Homo sapiens: one gene and its partners. The protein of the gene in region 1 purifies or fractionates together with the protein of each later gene. This does not show direct contact. Each region holds a gene or a part of one and is shown in the gene's direction. Other genes may lie near its edges.

Region 1 (7,113 bases):
AAGGGGAGGCTCTTCCTATTCCCTTCCCCATTGCTTTGCCCTTGTATCTGCTCATCCTCCTCTCTCCCCTCTCCAGGAGAGACGTTTCAGAGCCCTTGCCTCCTTCACCATGCCGGTTGCCGCCACCAACTCTGAAACTGGTAAGAAGGGGGTGAGGATGTTAGCTTATTTCAGTGGTTCAGAGGGTGCCAGGCGAGGACTTAGGGGTGGGCACTTGCACAGCTCCAGATAAGAACCAACTGGCTCCACTGCTGTCCACCCTACCACTCAGCCATTCCTTCTGGCAGCTGCTGTGGCCATCTCCTCTGTGTGGGTTCCTGTGCTGGAACGGAGAAGAGAAAGAATAAGACCCATACCTGCTCCAGTGTAGGGCTGGAGCACAACTCACCTCCGTGGAGGGCAGGGGATGCATGCTCCAGAGGTGACCCGTACTATTGCTGGAGGGCAGTGGCATAGGACCAGGCCTTCAGGAGGTGGCCCCGGAGCTGGGCCTTGGAGAATGGCTTGGGGGTGGAGGGATTACAGCAGCACAGCCTGGGGCTGAGAAGTCCATAATCGCTGCCCACTAGGCCAGCATGTGCCAGAGGTGGACAGGGGGTACTGGGGACCAGGAAGCTGTGAGTGAAGGAACAAGAATACCAGGTTAGGATACCTGGACGTGGCTCTGTAGGAGGCATTAGGACAAGGGAGTGGGCCACTCAGACAAACTAGCAAAGCCTCAGTGGCAAACTGCTTAACCTCTTGGAGCTCGCATTTCTTCTTCTGTAAAGAGGCTGCTGTGAGACGCAAAGGCTGTAATGGGAGAGCACATTACTTTTAGGAATAGTCATAATTATTATGCTGCTGTTGCTGCCGCTGCCACCAAGTTGTTGTTGTTGTTTTTGAGACAAGTTCTGGCTCTTTAGCCTAGGCTGGAGTGCAGTGGCGCAAGCTTGGCTCACTGCAACCTCTGCCTACCAGCCTCAAGTCATTCTCCCACCTCAGCCTCCCAAGTAGCTGGGACTACAGGTGTGCACCACCATGCCCAGCTAATTTTTGTATTTTTCGTAAAGACAAAAATGTTGCCCATGCTGGTCTCAAACTCCTGAGCTCAAGTACTCCACCCGCCTCGACCTCCCAAACTACTGGGATTACAGGTGTGAACCACTGTGCCTGGCCTGAGTTGTTATTTTGGCATTAACCCTGTGTCCTTGAAACAGTCACCTCCTTTTGAAGACCTGAGATTTCCCTAAGATGAGATGATGGGACAAGATCAGTGTTCTTAACTTTTTTCTTTTTCTTTTTTTTTTTTTTTGAGATGGAGTCTCCCTCTGTTGCCCAGGCTGGAGGGCAGTGGTGGGATCTCGGCTCACTGCAACCTTCACCTCCCAGGTTCAAGTGATTCTCCTGCCTCAGCCTCCCAAGTAGCTGGGATTACAGGCACCTGCTATCATGCCCAGCTAATTTTTGTATTTTTGTAGAGACTGGGTTTCACCATGTTGGCCAGGCTGTCCTGACCTCAGGTGATCCACCTGCCTTGGCCTCCCAAAGTGCTGGGATTACAGGCATGAGCCACCACACCTGGCCTGTTCTTAATTTTATTGGTCCTGAGTCACTTAGAATCTGGTGACAGCAGTGAGCCCTCATCGTAGACATATACATCCATGCACAAAAGGTATATTCTACTCTAGGGGATCATGGATTCCCGTAGTGCACGCAGGACCCCAGAAGGTTAAGTTCCCTGTGCTAGAGGCCCTCTGAGGCCCGGGCAGCTGGGAACTGCTATGGTTCTGCTCTGAGTTGTCTGAACTTCCCCCTGCCTGGATGCCTCCCTCCCATGCAGCTCCTTCCCTTGCTCTAGGCCCCACTACTGCCTCTGCCAGAGGTTCCAGGGCTGCCACTTTGGGTAGAATGATTCCTCTGTGCCTCCTCTCCGAGAAAGTGAAGGGAGTGAGCCAGGGCCTAAACTGTGGTACACTTGTCCAGGAAAGGCCTCTTCTCCTTGCAGTGGAGGGATGGCACCAATGTCCCCAGCTTCTGCAGCATCAGAGGGCTCAGTCCCCCATCTCCTGTCCAGCCTGCTGGGCTCCCTGGGGTCTCCCTGCCTCTTTCAGCCTGCCTAGGCCCCACTGTAAGCTGCTTAGGCATTAATTAAACCCACCCCTGAGCCTGTGCTTAATGGCCTCTCCAGCCGGGACTGCCCAGTAAACCCACCAATAGTGCCTGACTGGGGCGTAGGAGGAGGAGCAAGCCCAGCAATTTGGCTTCGTTGTTGCAGACCACTTGATGGGGGCGTGGTGGGGGAGGATGGGGGACAGGGAGTGGAGCCTTGGGGTGTGGCGGTGGGTTCTGCTTCCTCAAAGGACTCCTGGGGCTCCTGCTCCCCTTCATGTTGTTCGAGGGGCTGCTCCTGGCTTCTCATATTCAAAGGAAGAAGTACAAAGTGTTTTTCTTCCTTCAGGCAGCCTCTGTCCTATCCTGAGCTACATTAGCTCCCAGCTTCAAAAATCTAATGGTGGATTCTGCCCCTTATTATCTGGTGGTCATTATACTTCCCACAGGATAGAGAGACAGCTGTGTCCCTGCCTCTGAGTTCAGGCTCCCCTTCCCTCCTCCTCCCCTGGGAGATCCCTGCCTTGGACTCTGCAAAGGGCAAAGCTAATAAGATCCTTTTTCCGCCCTTCCCCATGGGTCAGTATGGTTGAAGGGAGGGAAAGGGTATGGGTGTATTCCTCTTGCAGGGAGACCCCATATCTACTTTGGGTAGAGTCAGGGGCCCTTTTCCTGAGACTTGGGAGATAAATGGACAGTGGCACTGGGCTGAGAACTTAGAGATCCTGAACCTGGCATCTCCTGACCTGCAGCCTTGCTCCCTCTTCCCCTGTCACCAGATTCCCTCCCTTTTTTGGATCAAGGCTGGGATATGTGGCTGCTTTCAGGTGGAGCTGTCCCTTTAAATCTCTCCTCCATCCCTGGGTTACTGTCCTGGTGTGTAATTCTACTGTCATGGCAACCAGGGGTGCAATGCGACCTGGTGCCACTCCTCAGGGAATGTCTGAGTGGAGGCTGCAGTACCCTGATGGTGGCCTCTTGGGCACAAGATCTCAGAGGAATGGGGTCACCGGAGCGGAGCTGAGTCCTTCCCTTCTGCCCACACTTTTCCCTGTGTGCAAATGTGCCCTCATTTTTCCTTTCTGGGGAACTGAGTTCCAAGATGCCTGACTTGCTTCCTGGGCATCATCCCCTTCATTAAGAGGAAGAACTCATGGGAGATGGGGGAGGGGAAGAAGCTGCTGTGAGGCGAGGGGTAAGCAGGGCTGGGGCACCATCCCTACCCACAGCGATGCCACCTCCCCCACGTACCCTGCCTCCCAGTGGCTGACCAAGGGTGGGTAGGGGGAGGCGTCTGAGGCTTGAGGTATTTGCCCCATGCCCAAGTGAGGCTGCCTCCCGGTGGAGGGCTGAGTCGTTCTTGGGGACTTCCTTAGACTGAGGGACTATTGTAAAGGAAACAGGGCCTGGAGAGGGGACTGAGAGCAGAGGTCAGAGGGCATAGGGAGGAGGTGGCATGGGGTGTATTAGAGGAGGGGCTTCTAGAAAAGAGGGTACAGGGACAAGATGGGCCAAGACTTTTCTCCCTCGGGTCTCCTGAAGCTGGCTGTGAGGGGAGGGTCTCGGAGTACCGCGCCAGTCTTGAAGGGGCAGCATGCCTACCCCCTCCTCAAAACTTCCTGTTAGCCGCCTCCTCCCCATCCCCACCGACACTGACATGCTGGGGATCGGGCAATCTGTGGGACTAGGGCTCCCTCCCACCACTCTTCTCCCACCCGGGTTACCGCCTGCTCTGCACCGCGCAGCGCCAGTCAGGGCTTTAGCCAATCAGCAAGGCGGTCACGGCGGCTGAGCCTTCCCATTGGCTGGTTCCTCAGAGGGCGCTCCTCGACTCCCGCCTTCCCCAGCCCGGCCAGGCTTTGGCTGGGGAGGCGGTAGACGGCGGCGTGTAGGACGCTCCGGGAGTCCCCGGGTCTGGGGGCCGCCATGGCAGGCAGCCCAGGCAGCGGGGTCTCCTTGGAGGGTATATCCCTGGAGTCTTCTGAGGAAGCGGAGCTCCAGAGGGAAGGTAGGGAAGGGCGGGCCAGATGGGGGCGGGGCAGCTGGCCCCTTAGCCTACCTTCCTCCAGCAGAGTCGGGGCATCTGGGGAGGGTGGCCTGGGAGAGGTCATCTGAGGGCACCTTCAGGAGAGCTGTCCTGGGCAGAGGGCACCAACTCCCTTGGCTCAGTCCTCCCCTAGATAACGGAGGGAATCTGGCATACCCTGGCAGGAAGGGAAGGGTCCCTGCCCTGGCCTCTTTCAGAGCCCACTGAGGGCCTCGCAGGTCTCTGACCAATGCCAAGCCCCGGCCTGGGCAAGAGGGGTCTGAAGGGCAAGCTTGCACTTTTTTTTCTGGAGAAGGCAGGGAGCAGGAGGAGGAAGGAGATGGGAGTCCAGGAGTCCCTGAACCATCTCTGCCAGCTCCAGTTCCAGTGCCCCCTCCTCCCCACTCCTGTTCCTTCCTGGAGGAGGGGGGCACTGACAAGAGCATTGAGAGGCGCCAGGGGTGCATCCTCCGCCGTCCTCCGTGGCTTGGGTACTGTTATGCAGATGTAGGCATGGGCGGCATGGTGGCAGAGTAATGATACCCTTCGCCCATCTCTGCCCCCAGCTGGGCACATTCTGCTTCTCGCTTCCTTTCCCCGGAACTTGCCACAGCCTGGAACTCCCACCTCTGTCAGTGAGTGAAGGCAGCCCTCACCTCAGGTCTCGGGGGCATTGTTGCGGCCCAGCTGCAGGTGTTATCGTGTCCTCCATTATGTCCCATTTCGGGCTGAGAGTTTGCTTATCCCTGTGATGACTTGGTGTGACCTCAGCCTTTGGGTCACACCAAGGCCTCCAGTGCCTGTTTCCCTAGCTCCTGCCAGCGTTCCAGGCCTCAGCTTTGACTTCCTATCATCCATGTTAATTTCTCAGTGATTATAGATCATTGTCACTCAGAGCTGAAGGCCTGTAAACATCATCTAGCCCAATCCATCCATTTTACAGGCAGGAAAGACTGAGGCCAGTGAGGGACAGTGACTTGTACAATGTCACACTGAATTAGTGGTGCTTAGACTGGAGGCTGCAGGCCCTGGCTCCTGTGTGGCTGCCTGCTTGACTCTGGGCCTGTACTCACGGACTTGCTCCGAGTACTGTCTGTCTCATCCTTGAGCCTGCCAGGTACAGGTGGCTGAGCCCTGGGCTTCAGCCCATCTAGAGGTTGAGTGAGGAGCTTGTGGTTTTCTTTTCTTTTTCTTTTTTTTTTTTTTGAGACGGAGTCTTGCTCTGTCGCCCAGGATGGAGGGCAATGGCAGGATCTCAGCTTACTGCAACCTCCGCCTCCTGGGTTCAAGCGATTTTCCTGCCTCAGCCTCCCGAGTAGCTGGGATTACAGGCGCCTGCCACTACGCCCAGCTAATTTTTTGTATTTTTAGTAGAGACAGGGTTTCCCTGTGTTGGCCAGGCTGGTCTTGAACTCTTGACCTCAGGCAATCCACCCGCTTCGGCCTCCCAAAGTGCTGGGATTACAGGCGTGAGCCACCGCGCCCGGCCAGAGACAGTCTTGCTCTGCCACCCAGGCTGGAGTGCAGTGGCGTGATCTCAGCTCACTGCAATCTCTGCCTCACAGGTTCAAGCAGTTCTCCTGCCTCAGCCTCCTGAGTAGCTAGAATTACAGACCTACACCACTATGCCTGGCTAATTTTGGTATTTTTAGTAGAGATGGGGTTTTGCCTTGTTGCCCAGGCTGGTCTTGAACTCCTGGCCTCAAGTGATCCACCCAACAGCTTGTGGTTTTCTGGTGCAGGGCAGGATCTGCAACCTGACACCTGCTTCCCTTTCTCCCTTCTCTCCACCTCAGAGTCTCTTCCAGCTGCCTGGAGCCTCCCACCTGCTCAGGCTGGCATTACCTAGGGTGGAGAGAACAGGCCAAGGAAATTGTCCCCTTCCTCCAGGATCCCTGTCCCAGGCATTCAAGGGCCTGGGGTGCCTGTGCTGGGCAGGGAGGGGAATGTTGCCGGGGAGGGGCTGCCTTCTGTGGGACATGGGGGTGGGGAAGTGGCAAGTATTGTGGTGTGTTTTGGTCTTCTGTACCCAGCTGGTACCTGTGTATCTCACTGCCCGTACCTTCCCCCAGCCATGCAGCAAGTCCTGGACAACTTGGGATCCCTCCCCAGTGCCACGGGGGCTGCAGAGCTGGACCTGATCTTCCTTCGAGGCATTATGGAAAGTCCCATAGTAAGATCCCTGGCCAAGGTACAGTGCTCCAGGGAGGTGGGCACAAGGGCACTGTGCTTGGGGAGGCACAGTAGGGGATGGGGTATTAGCTACAGAGGGCTTTGGGAATGGGACATGTGGCACAAGAGGCCCCCCTGAAGGGGATTGTAGAAGAAAATCATGCCCAGGTGATGACCTGAGTGGCTGCAGGTAGAGGGGGCTGCCCCCACACCTGTCTGGTGAGTGCGTGGGTGGATGTTTGTTGACTGCCAGCTTGTGGAGTGTGTGATTGGTGCGGGCTAGCATGCACATGTTGGAGAATCTCTAGAATTCATCTTGCCTGTCCTTCTGCCTTTGGGCGTTTTGTGTGTATGTCTTTCTAAGGTCACCTGCCATGTATCAGGTTGGGGAGAGATTGACTAAAAGAGAAAATTATAGGACAATTTGGTAATGACAGTGATAGAGGTGGATACACTATGCATTTTGGGAGCATAAAGGACAGGTGTCTAACCCAGCCTGGGGTGGGTGAGGAGGGCTTCCTGGAGGAAGGACCACTTGAGCTGAGTGGAAGAATGAGGAAGAGGGGGAGGGCATTCTGGGCCACAGAAGAGCTTGAGCAGAAGCACAGAGGTAAGAAAGAGTCAGGAGTGTGCAGGGGATTGGAAGGGCTGGTGTGAGGCTGAGCCTCAAGTGTAAGACAATGCGAGCTGTGCAAAGGTTGGCAGGTCTGGAGGGCACTGGGGGCTGTATGTGGGTGCTTGGGCATCCTTCTGTGAGTATCAGGGAGGCTTTATGGTTTTTTTTGTTTTGTTTTGTTTTGAGAAGGAGTTTTGCTCTTGTTGCC
Region 2 (7,113 bases), on another chromosome or scaffold:
GAGAATTAACAGTATCCGAGAGAGTTCTGGATACAGGAAAGGTAATCATCATTGGGATATCCATATCTTAGTGGAGGCAGATAAGGAAATCTGGGAGATTAGTTAAGTGTGGCTTTGAGGTTGGACATTCCAGAATTTGACTCCCAGCTCTTCTACTCACTAAATGTGTTACTTTGGGAAGTTAGTGATTCCAAGTGCGTTTCTCTGTCCCTAAGGTAGGCAGGGAATGCATACCTTATAGGATTGCTTTGAGCAGGCCTATCCCTAGAGTAGATGGGGCCCTGGGCAGATTTTTTTTGTAGGGCTCCTGTCTATATAAACAATTTGAGTCACCCAAAGCAGTGTGTCAACAGCTCAATCTGTTTCAGTCTTGGGAAAGAAATGCCACACCAGCCTGAGGAAGTGATTGCTTGCTAGGCTTGTCCCCTAGAATGGAGCCAGCTCCAGGGCCCCAAGAAACCCATTGGCATGACTCCTGGGGCTCCTTGGGGCATCTGGCCAACCCCTTGCACAGTATGGGAGAGATGCAGAGGATCACTAGAGAGATCTGTGAAGAGGAGGCTCAGATTCCCCATCCAGACAGCACTGCTGGCCCCAGCGATCCCAGGTACCAGAGCGCACTTAGACATTTTTGAGGAAGGAATGGGGTTAGGGCAGGGGCCCTGCTTGCGTGTGTCTAAGGGCAGTATTGATTATGAGAACTAAATGAGAACCTGGCTGGGCATGGTGGTGTGGGCCTATAGTACCAGCTACTTGAGAGGCTGAGGCAGGAGGATCACTTGGGCCTAGGAGTTCAAGACCAGCCTGGGCAAACTTGCAAGACCCTATCTCAATTTTAAAAATTGTAAAAAAAGATAAAAATAAATTTAAAGAATGAGAACGTGCATATCAAAGTGTTTGGTATAGTGGCACACAAAAGCATCCACTAAATGTTAATTTCAGTAATAATAATAGAATTGCAATATAGTCAGCATTAGTCATTTTTGACAGTCTCTATGGAGGCTGAATTAAAATAATAAAATAAGAAAAAATTGTTTATTATTGTTAAAAATAATTTCTATTGTTTGCCTTCCATGCTGTGAAACAATAGAGGCCCAGAACTATAGATGCTGCACAGGACGTGGGATTCCCAGAAAGCCACTGTGTGTTCAGAGCATCCTGTTTAGGACAGGTGCTTGGAGGAAGTGCGCCCTCCTGCAGCCATGCATGTTCCTGTGCTACGAAGCCCCAGAGTGTTCAGGAGCAGCTCCTGGCAGGGTGCTTGGGAATATTTGGCAAAGGCCTCCTCCAGCTGCCAGAAAGATCTCACGATGCTGCAGCTTCCTGTTATTGTCTGGTGCTCAATCCCTGCTTTGAGTTGTGCTGGACTCCATGATTTTCCAAGTGTCCCCATGCATATGTGTCCTTTGTAAAGCTCAAAACAACCCTTGGATGTTGCAAGGGAAGAAATTGTTTTCCCCCACTTAACAACAGCAATGAGTTAGCAAGAAGATGGGAAAAGTGGGCAAAACAAATATATCAGTGAACATACAAAATAGCTTCCGCAAAAATATATCAGTGGGCATATATCAGTGAAATAGATCTGTGAATATACAAAATAGCTTCTGCAAAAATATATCAGTGAGCATATATCAATGAAATAGATCAGTAAACGTACGAAACAGCCTCTGCAGCTTCTGACTGTAGATGTAGTACTGTTCTTGAAGAACGGCTGTCATTCATTGAGGGCCTACTATATCTCAAACATTGTGATAAGTGTCTTTTTTTGTTTGGTTTTGTTTCTGAGACAGGGCCTCCCTCTGTCTCTGAGGCTGGAGTGCAGTGGTGAGAACAGGGCTCACTTCAGCCTTCACCTCTTGAGCTCAAGTGATCTTCTTGCCTCAGCCTCCCATGTAGCTGGAACCACAGGCGCATGCTACCAGGCCTGGCTAATTCTTTGATTTTTTTTTTAGAGACAGGGTCTCACTTTGTTGCCCAGGCTGGTTTAAAACTCCTGACCTCCAACAGTCCTCCTGCTTTGGCTTCCCAAAGTGTTGAGATTACAGGCGCAAGCCACCATACCTCGCCTGTGCCAAGTGTTTCATGATTTTTCCATGTTTGATATTCTCAATGACTCAACAAAGCAGGAATTACTTTTATCTCATTTTACAGAGAAGGAAACTGGGGCATATGCAGTTAAGAGACCTGCCAAAGGTCACATAAGTACTAGATTTGGGCTTAGGTCTGCCTGACACCCAGGTTCGTGGTCTCAACCATGATGTCACTCTGCCTCAGCCTGAGGAGCATAAGAGTGGGTCATTCATGAGGTACGCTGAACACTGGCACACCTAAAGTTTGTAAATAATATTGCTAATTACGTACTTCAGCAACTCAAATTTGAAGACTCCCATAAAGTATATTGCTGTTGCCAGGAAAATTAGCAAAGATTTCCTTCCTCTAGCTCGTAAATACAAGCTGTCTGTATGGAATGTTCCCTTACTCTCCTGTAGGAAATTAGAGTGAAGTTTTTGAACCTGTGTTTCTTTCTGTCCTTTGGAGCTTTTGGGTCTCATACAAACGAAAGAACATATTTAGGGCGATTACCTTCTTGACAAACAAACAAGAGACTGGCACTATTATCAAAAGCCCCAAGGATATCTGGAGAGGATTCAGTGATTATGTTGTCAGCTGAGTCCAAATCCCAAAGCAGAATGTTCTGGACTGGAGAGCAGGGACCAAAGTAGACTTGGCAGTCCCCTCCCTGGAAAAGCAGTTCATATCCCAGAAGAGAGAAAGGTGGTTCATGTCTGATTCAGGCACCTGCTGAGACCTTTCTGTTACATGCAGCACACCAGGTGTTGTCTTCACTCGGAATGGTTTCCCAAGACCCAGATACTCAGGGTATCACGTAAGTGAGAGAACCTCTTGGGTACATTATTGTTTCTTAAAGCAATACCAACCTGTTTTCAAACTAAGTAGAACATATAACACTATAATATTTTTCTTTTAGTGTGCCCTTCTTACCCCATTCACTAATCCGCAACCCCAGACCTGTATGTCAGAGGGCTAGGGGAAGCGTCTTGGGTATAGTAGGCCATAGGCCACAAATGGCTTTGTTGTCAAAAAGACAGCATATTCTTCAAGATGCTGTGGAGCTTTTCTATAGCATCTTCCTGGTAACATTGAGAGTCTGTGTCAGGGAAAAGGTTTTAATTCTCTCCAAACCCTGAAACTCAGCTGTGAAGGCCCTCTATTACATTTGAGAGAAGTGTTTGAGCTAGCCATAAAAAATACATCCTGGGAAAGTTGGTAAGAAGGACCAGCATGTGGTTCCTGCCCTCAGACCCGCTCTCCTGACTGATGGCTTTGACTAGGCTACTTTGAGAGGCAAAGTAGTGACCGGCATCTGCTGCTGGCAAGGAGACACACTGTGTTGTGGCCTCCTGTTCCTCCAGCATGCTGGGTCCCCAGGGCCTCATCCGGTTTGTTGATGGGATATGGTTCCCCCCAAACAGCAGTCTTACTTTAACTTTTGTTCTCCTGAGGATGGAGATGATAGGTGGTGGCCAGTTACTTCTACATCTTGCAAGGGCATGAATGGAGAGGGATTTGAGGTTTCAGCTATTTGGGAAAGCATTAGATAGTTTGCATTTTTTTTTTATTTATAGTTACCAATAACCCCTTTTCAATTCCCTAGGCTTCTCATTCCATTAGTTTAATCATATTTCCCAGAATCATACGTTTCAAGCTCTTGACGGTTAAGCCTTTCTATCACGTCCCACTCTTAACCCCCAAACACCCGCATCAGTCTTCTTTGTCACAGATGTTTGAAGGATGCTTTCACGTTGGGCCTCTCTTTGTATGTGCAATTCTGCTGCCTGGCACAGTCTCCCCAGTTTCTCTGAGGCCCAGCAGGCTGCAGGTTAAGCTTTTCCTCCTCTGGGCCGGCCTGATCTTACCTCTTGCCTCGTCCTCCTCTGTGTTTTCATAGCATCCTCTGCACATCTTTGTTCAAGTTGCCTGTTTATAAGCTTCTCCCTTTTCATACACTGAGGTCCTCTCTGAGGGCAAGGAGAGAGCTGTGCTCTTATTTTTATTCCATTATAGTACCTGGCATGGAAAAAAAGCTGTGAGTGATGAGTAAATGAATGAGTGAATGTTCGCAGAAATCAAATCACTATGTTCGAAGAATACAATTCGGCATTAAATTGTCCCCCTGCCTTCAAGTAGCTGAGGCCAGGAGAAGCTGCAAAGCAAACTGGTTGCAAATTCAGGGTTATGGGGTCAGACCTCGCTGCCAAGTTCAAAGTCCAGCTCTGCTCTTTGCAGTTCTGTGACCTGGGCAAGTGACTTAATATGTCCGAGCCTTAGTTTTCTCGTATATAAAATGTGGATAATACTACCCACATTGCAGCGGTATTATGAGCCCTAAGAGAAAATACGTATTTTAGAAATGCTGGCATTTAGTTGGAGCTCGATAAATACTTCCCCCTCTTCTTCTCACCCAAATGTGTGAGAAGTTGAATAATTGTCTAGATAACAAATACAATTAGTTTTCAAAGGAAAGAAATATCACTGAAGGGAAAGAGAAAGTAGGATTTGCGATTTGAGCTGTAAAATAGATATGATTTACCCAAAATACGAGTAAAAGGAAAATAGCCCAATGATCTGAGAGTGGAAAGAAAAAGGTAGAAGTAAGACACTTTTCACCTAGTTCCACTGGCTGAATCTACTTGGTCCAGCTTTTTTTTTGTTTTATTGATGGTTGCTTTTTGTTTTGTTTATTTTATTTTTAGTCCTAGGAATGTGGGCAAGTAACTATTTTCACATGAAATGTTCCCATGTAAATTACTTCCTTGAGTGAGTAAATATGCTGCAATGCCCCATTCGTTTTAATTAAATGTACTTAAAAACTAATCTTATTTAAAGTCAGAGGGTAAAGCAGTCTGTTTAAGTTTATTGTTTGGCATTGTTTTAATCCAGGCTTTAAACAAATTTGAATCTTACTAAGAGTGGCTTACTTTCAAAGAAATCCCTGATTTCCCATCCTTTGATCCTAATGATTCTGGGGCATGACCCAGTGCTGATTATTATGGATGGACTCCTGTTAACTTGGCAAATCAGCCATGGACCTGTGACGGCCATGGGTACAAGACAAAGCTGCTAACAGAAAGGGAATATGGATTGTGTGGAGGCTGGGCACAGTGGCTCACGCCTGTAATCCCAGCACTTTGGGAGGCCGAGATGGGTGAATCACGAGGTCAGGAGGTCGAGACCAGCCTGGCCAACATAGTGAAACCCCGTCTCTACTAAAAAATACAAAAATTAGCCTGGCATGGTGGTGGGCGCCTGTAGTCCCAGCTACTCAGGAGGCTGAGGCTGGGAAATTGCTTGAACCTGGGAGGCAGAGGTTGCAGTGAGCCGAGATAGCACTACTGCACTCCAGCCTGGACAACAAAGTGAGACTTTGTCTCAAAAAAAAAAAGAAAAAAAAGAGGGGGGATATGGATTGTGTGTTACTCATTGGGGTGGACAGGTGGCCAGCACAGGCTTGATTTGTCTATGGACTACAAGACGAAGGCTACCAGTAGGAAGGTAATATAAGGTGAATACGTGGTCAGCAGATGGGTGATTCTGTCCCTGGGGTGGAAGATGAAGGCTGCCAACAGGAAGGAAGCATAGTCTGTGTGCTGTTTGTTAGGGCGTGTAGAGGTAGCCAGCAGGAAGATTCCTTTCTCAATCTCAGAAAGCAGCACACCCAGAATACACTAGAGAAACCCTTTGCAGAATCAGGATTTAAGTATGTCAGGATTTTAGATAGACTATGATATGATATGCACGAGGATTCTAGATATTTCTCAAAGGTAGAAATAAACCTTTGATATCAACACCTTTATTTATTTATTTATTTATTTATTTATTTATTTATTTATTTATTTATTTATTTTGACAGAGTCTTGCTCTGTCACCCAGGCTGGAGCACACTGGTGTGATCTTGGCTCACTGCAGCCTCTGCCTCCCGGGTTCCAGCGATTCTCTGTGCCTCCGCCTTCTGGGTGGCTAGGATTACAGGCATGCACCACCATGCCTGGCTAATATTTTTGTATTTTTAGTAGAGATGGGGTTTCACCATGTTGGCCAAAGCTGGTCTTGAACTCCTGACCTCAAATGACCTGCCCGCCTCGGCCTCCCAAAGCACTGGGGTTATAGGTGTGAGCCACCGTGCCCAGCCAACACCTTACTTTTGTAGGAAGTAAGAGACTGAGGTCCAGAGAAGTAAATGACTTTCCTAAGGTCTATGGTATAATCAGAGGGTAGTGTTAGATTAAGACCCTAGCTCTCCTCTCTCCCTGTTTGATATTACATGAGAAGACCAAAGGATTATTAATTTTTTTTTTTAAGTTCAGTTGGAGATTCAGCTCGGGTGAAACTTTCCTGTGGAGTCTCTCCAGACCTCTCCTCTTTTGGGCTCTGCTGTGTACCACACAAATGCCCATCCAAGCACCTCTATGCTTGGCTATTTGTATCTGTTTGTTTGCGTGTCTCCCTACCAGGTAGTAAGTGCCTTAGTGGCAGGACAGTTGTTTCCGTGGTTTCTTCAGACTATAACGCAGTGCTTGGTAAGTAAAGGTACTTCATACATTTTAAAATGGAGATGTAATGTAGTACACCATAACATTCACCACTTTAACATTTACGAGCCTGTGCATTTTAGTAGAACCACGAAGTTGTGCAACCATCCCACTATCTAATTCCAGAGCATTTTTATCAGCCCAGAAAGAAACCTTGTGCCCGTTAGAAAACATCCCTGATGACTCACATTCCTCAGCTGCTGGCAACGACTTATCTCCTTTAGGTGTTTGTGGGTTTTCCTATTCCAGACATTTCATCTGATTGGAATCATGTAACCTGTGATTTTTGTGTCTAGCTTCTTTTACTTAGTATAATGTTTTTAAGGCTCATCGAGGCGGTAGCATTTATCAATACCGTATTCCTTCTTATGGCTGAATAGTATCCCATTGTAGGGATATATCACATTTTCTTTATCTTTTCGTCAGCCGATGGTCATTTGTGTTGTTCCTGCTTTCTGGCTATTATGAATAATGCTGCTATGAACACTTGTTACATGTTTTT
Region 3 (5,611 bases), about 26 Mb from region 1:
CTACTCAGGAGGCTGAGGCAGGAGAATCACTTGAACCTCGGAGGCGGAGGTTGCGGTGGGCCGAGATTGCACCACTGCACTCCAGCCTGGGCGACAGAGTGAGACTGCATCTCAAAAAAAAAGTGTACAAGTCAGTGATCTTTCCTATATTAATAGAGTTGTCTAACTATCAAGTTTAGAACATTTTCATCACCATAAGAGGAAACCCCATACCCTTAGCCATTATCCCAAACTCCTCATCCCCTCTGAGCCCTGGGCAACCACTAGTCTTTCTCTTATGTATGTATAGATTTGCCTATTCTGGGTATTTTATATAAATGGAATCTACAAAATACGGCCCTTGCTTCTGGCTTTTTTCACTTAGCATAATGCTTTGAAGGTTCATTCATGTTGTACCATGTATCAGAACTTCTTTTTTATTGCCAATTAATTTTCCATTACAGGTATATACAACTTTTTTTTTGAAACAAAGTCTCGCTCTTGTCCCCCAGGCTGGAGTTCAGTGGCACGATCTCGGCTCACTGCAACCTCCGCCTCCCAGGTTCAAGCAATTCTCCTGCCTCAGCCTCCCGAGTAGCTAGGATTACAGGCGCCTGCCACCACGTCTGGCTAAGTTTTGTATTTTTAGTAGAGACGGGGTTTTGCCATGTTGGCCAGGCCTGTCTCGAACTCCTGACCTCAGGTGTTCCACCCGCCTCGGCCTCCCAAAGTGCTGGGATTATAGGTGTGAGCCACCGTGCCCGGCCGGTATATACCACATTTTATTTATCCATTCATTATTTAGTGGACACTTAGATTGCTTCCATTGTTTAGCTCTTGTGAATAATGCTGCTGTGAACATGGGTATATCTGAGTTCCTGCTTTCAATTCCTTGGACATATACCTAGGAGTGAAATTGCTAGGTCATACGGTATTGCTATATTTAACTTTATGAGGAACTGCCAAACTGTTTCCCACAGCAGCTGCACCATTTTGCATTCCTACCGGCATGTATGAGGGTTCCAGTTTCTCCACATCCTCCCTGGCACTTGTTATCATGTCTCTATAATTATAGCTACCCTAGTGGATGTGAAGCAGTATTTCATTGTAGTTCTAATTTGCATATTTTTGATGGCTAATGCATATTTCTTTCCTGATAATTTGTTTTTGGTAAGAAATAAGCCGCTTTTTCCTACGTTCTTCCACACTCCTGTATGAAACAAGTAGGGGAGAGCCAACTTGCTAGACATTGACTCTAAATGTGCCCGAGGTTGTCATCCCAGCATGTAGATTGTCTGCCCCTATTTCTCCTCCCTCTGCATGACTCCCTGGATCACCTGCCAACAGGGGAGGCAAACACCTCAGATATCACTAATGTTTTCCAAGCCTAATACCGTACCTAGGAAAGTGAGAAAATTTAAATGAAAGGTAAAATACAGTTTAAGGCAGTAGTGAAATGAATTTTTCTACGCTCTCTTTAGATACCATGAGAATCAGTTTATGCCTATGCTAGCCATAAAGTTCTTAGGATATGAGAGCCTGGCATTACATGCTACAGCAGGAGAGGTCAGAGCAGCCGGTGAGGTTAGGGCTTGGGCGTGGGTCTCCATCTTCTCCCACAGCTTATTGAGGTCTCCTTTTTATAAAACATACCATAGTTAACTTCATGATTAGAGCAGAATGAAAAAAAACATTCATCTAGTGCATGGTTCAGGAGGATTAACCAAAAAAAGAAAGAATGAATGAAATCAAACTAGGTTCAACTTGAGAAATAGAAAATGAATGTGCATTTCAGTCCAAGTATGTGACTTGTTGGGTGCTCTGCTTTTTGAGGGGTTACTAATGTCCTTTGCTCAGGGTGCATTAGATGACTACCTCCCGTTTCTGTCTCCTCCCCCTTGCAGGTATCAGTCCCTCAATCTAACCCATGTTCCTGAACACAGTGCACCCATCTATGAATTCCGGTGACAACGGTTCAGAACAGCAACCAAATAAAACTGAACTTGGCAAAAAAGAACTTTGCCGAGAAAATTGTGTACCTGCCAGAACCAGGAGAAGTGTGTTCCTGTTTCTTCACGAGCAGACTCGCATCACAAAGCATGAATGTTAACCCACAGAATCCAAGGAGCATGGCTGGCCCGTGGGGCAGGTGGAGGGAGCAGTCTTCGTTCTTCCTCCCCTCAGTGGCAGTTTGGTCTTCACCTGTTTTTAAGCTACCTTAAACGCACTTTTCCTTCCTGCACAGCTAACTTCTACATCACTGAAATGCCCATTCCTTCCTCCGTCCCACCTCCAGCCGAATAGAAGGTCTGCTCCCGGATCACCCTCAGCCTTGGTGCTCAGTGGTCCCGAGGCCCTAGACCCCCACCCCCCGCCAGTTGCTTTGTCTGGTAGCTCAAGAGAAGGCAGAGCCCCAGCACCTCTGTGCCCCCCAGAGCTCTGTGCAGGGAGTTGGCCAGCTGCCGCATCATCGGCCACCAAGGGCACAAGAGGCGGAGGCTCCAGTCCCTGCTGGGCTGCCTCAGTCTTCAGTGCTGATTGTGTCACGGGTCAGCGTGCGCTGCTGAGCCCTGTACTGTTAACAGTGCAAAGCTAGTGAGTAGCTGTCAGGTTCCCTGGGCCTGCCATCAGGGATCACTAAATTTAAGGCTTCCAGATCCCTGGCAGGAACAGATTCCAGTCCTGCTTACTCAGTACATTTGCTCCAAACTTTTCAACTTGAGGGCAATACTAAACTTAAAAATAAGAGTTTTTTTATTACAAAATTATTTTTATGGTCCCTTTAACGAGGACCCTATGGCAAATGCACAATTATTCAGAATTACATTTTATCGTTTTCACATTGAAAACAGCAAATGTTGACTTAGTAATTTTTATATCGATATCTATATGTATATGTATATTTAATCAACCAGCAGTTTTGAAACTAGTCATCCTGGTACAAAAGTTTTGCAGCATTGCCTAAATTATAGTGCTCAACACAAGAACTGTTTTTGGGGCCAGTTTAGCATTTGTGCCGCCTCCTTTTGCTACTCAAAACAGCAATGCTTGGCGGCAGCCTTCCATGAGGCAGAAGGGGTCGTCGTTCTCTGAAAACAGTGACTCTGAAATGTTGGGACAGGGGAAGGGGTGGGAAACATGAACATGCTCAAATAACTCGAGGCTCACGTGCCAAAGTGTGTGTGTGTGTGTGTGTGTGTGTGTGTGTGTATGATGTTTTGTTTTTTTAAATGTTTTAAAAGCTTAATAGGTTGGCATCAGTTGTAGCCCACAAACATGGCTAGGGCTTTGGGGATTTGGCATTTTTCTGGTGGTTTACAAGACTTACTCCGAATACAAGAGGAAAAGCTTTAAAAACAAGATTGCATCATAACCCCCAGGAGCAAAGCAACCTGGAGGCTGCATATCCATGGGCGGGCAGCATAAGAGAATGTGAAGCCCTTCAGTGAGACGAGACGAGCAATGGGAAACCTTTTCTGTTCTTAAGAAGTGACTTTAATTTTATTGACATATGTACTGTATGTTACTGAGATTGAATGTTAGGGGAAGCCTTAAGGTAGAGGTATTTGGGAAAGTAGCCAGTGGGCACTTGTGATATCTAAAATCTGTTATCCCAGGACTGTGTACAGAGGGGCAACCTACCCATTCAGGAAGGTCAGGGCTTTGGAACCCTAAAAAGTTGGCCCGATGACTTAAAGGGAAAAATAATTCATTCCCAGAGATGAGTCAGAACAGTCTCCTCAATCCTGAAATTCAACAAGGCATCAGAAGGGCTGGCTGTGGTCAAGCCCAGCTGCTGTCATGTGAGGAGATGCTCACTGTGGTCTTGTTGAGCTGATGGCCTTGGTTGAGCTGATGGACAAGTGAAGGAGGCCATGGGGCTGTGCTGTCCTTCCTGCCGTACGTGCCATTCCACTCTCTTCAGCTCTCCCCTCAACAGCATGCGAGCCCATACCTTCTGCATTTTTCCAGGCCTGTGAGGGATATAGGCCTCCCCTTGGAGCACTGAGTCCGGAGGTCATCCCTGAGCTCATCCACGGCTCATGCTGTGGCTCCGAGTAGTGGTTTGAGTGGGCAGGAAGGGCCATTTGCAAACACTGCTGTGTTCTAGACAAACAACCCAAGTCCTATGGCAGGATTTCTTCCTTCCTTCCTTTTTTACCCAGGTGATGAAGTGCACCCATTGTACTGGGAAGAATGAAGAGGTGATACCTTTACTAGATCCTTCAGACACATCTATGAGAAGATTTGTTCATTTAAAAGTCTGCCCACTGAGGATAGGGAAAGGATTAAGGATTTTTCCACCTCCTCTTAGTAACTCCTGAATTACCAACATCAACTTCTTTCTCTCCGTTCCTGAAGGAACTTTGGGGAATCATCTTCATCCGTAGTTACGCTTTCCTGAACCTTCTCAGTGGTTTACATGCCTCTGAAACTATGTGCAATATTTTTGGTTGACACTTGTATCCATCCTTAAGAAATTAGTGCAGATTGCAGATGTTCTGTCTTCCATCCCAAACAAGCCTGCCATGAGGTAGGATCCTAGGGGTTTGGCTGTTCTTACTCCACTGCTCAGAAAGCTTCCATTCTGCTGTCCTCAGCCTCGACCCTCTTCTGTGCTGGACTTCCACCCACCCACCCTTTTCAAGTTTAGATAGTGTTTCAGCTGCTGTCCCAAAGTAACAAAACAATACCTACTGTTAAGTAGGAAGTCAATCTGTGTGCTGGTTTTGTTGGTTATGTGGAAATCACAAACTCCAGAGGAGCAAAGGGGTTTTTCAATGTCTTTTGCTTTCAGAAACAGAGAATATAATATTCTCACTAAGGCCTTGAATTGATTTTTTTCTCATAAAATAGTCTGATAAGCTAATTTTTAAAAAGAAATGCCATTAACTGTGTTGTATCGTGGTTTAAAATTACTAACAAGTTGTGGGAAAGAAAAATAATATTTGATTTTGAATCTTAAATGTTTTTAAAAATTAGACTTGAATGGGCACAAAGTATAAATATTTTGTTTCTTTATGGAGGACATGTGGAAGGAGTTTGAGGGTTTGGGATGGGAGAAGTATTTTGCAGAGCTATCAATGTCCAAATAATTTAAAAAAAAAAATAAAGGTATTTAAGCAGTGAGTTTGTCCTATTTGTAAACCAAAGCAGCTCCATTAGAGGAAAGCAGTCCTCTCTGGGCCTGTGGCTGTGGAGCTCTCCAGGGCCAGCCGGAGACCTCTGTGTGCCAGGGCAAACCGAGGGCCCCTCTGGGCAACTGTTGCAGTGGTCTGCTTGCTCCTTTTTCATTCTGAATGTTTTCAGCTGCTCAGCACTTCTATTCAAGCTCCATTTTGTTAATTTCTGTATTTCTTCAGAAATGTGGAAGCATTTTTTTTTTCCATATGTGAAGGGTTTATATTTCTATTTAACACAGAGAAAATGTGCAGGCAGAGGTATCTGTCCAAAGCCTGCTTTGTGTTCTGGTGTGGGGACAGGCAATGCTGTTGGGCTGCTCTCGACACTGTGACTGTGGTCCTCAGAGAAGATGCCTAAGTCTCAAAGCACAGGCACTTGGACCCCCAAATAGCAGGATCCCTAAATCAGCCATTACAGTTTATTCTGACAAACCATTCTGTTACGTTTC

Evidence for each region.
Region 2: the proteins of MPP2 (region 1) and ABLIM1 purify together in Homo sapiens (co-immunoprecipitation; 2 studies listed by BioGRID and IntAct, with this or other methods). This does not show direct contact.
Region 3: the proteins of MPP2 (region 1) and GID4 purify together in Homo sapiens (affinity purification with mass spectrometry; 2 studies listed by BioGRID and IntAct, with this or other methods). This does not show direct contact.

Annotation. Positions count from the first base shown.
Region 1 is NC_000017.11:43,897,457-43,904,569, reverse strand, and holds part of MPP2 (MAGUK p55 subfamily member 2), read left to right. Parts: intron 1-76; coding exon of another isoform or gene 77-109; coding exon 110-140; intron 141-3,005; exon of another isoform or gene 3,006-3,286; intron 3,287-3,945; exon of another isoform or gene 3,946-4,017; coding exon of another isoform or gene 4,018-4,099; intron 4,100-6,189; coding exon 6,190-6,308; intron 6,309-7,113. UniProt on the Homo sapiens protein: Postsynaptic MAGUK scaffold protein that links CADM1 cell adhesion molecules to core components of the postsynaptic density. In CA1 pyramidal neurons, required for synaptic KCNN2-containing channel function and long-term potentiation expression.
Region 2 is NC_000010.11:114,648,214-114,655,326, reverse strand, and holds part of ABLIM1 (actin-binding LIM protein 1), read left to right. Parts: intron 1-7,113. UniProt on the Homo sapiens protein: May act as scaffold protein. May play a role in the development of the retina. Has been suggested to play a role in axon guidance.
Region 3 is NC_000017.11:18,063,297-18,068,907, forward strand, and holds the end of GID4 (glucose-induced degradation protein 4 homolog), read left to right. Parts: intron 1-1,883; coding exon 1,884-1,947; 3' UTR 1,948-5,109; downstream 5,110-5,611.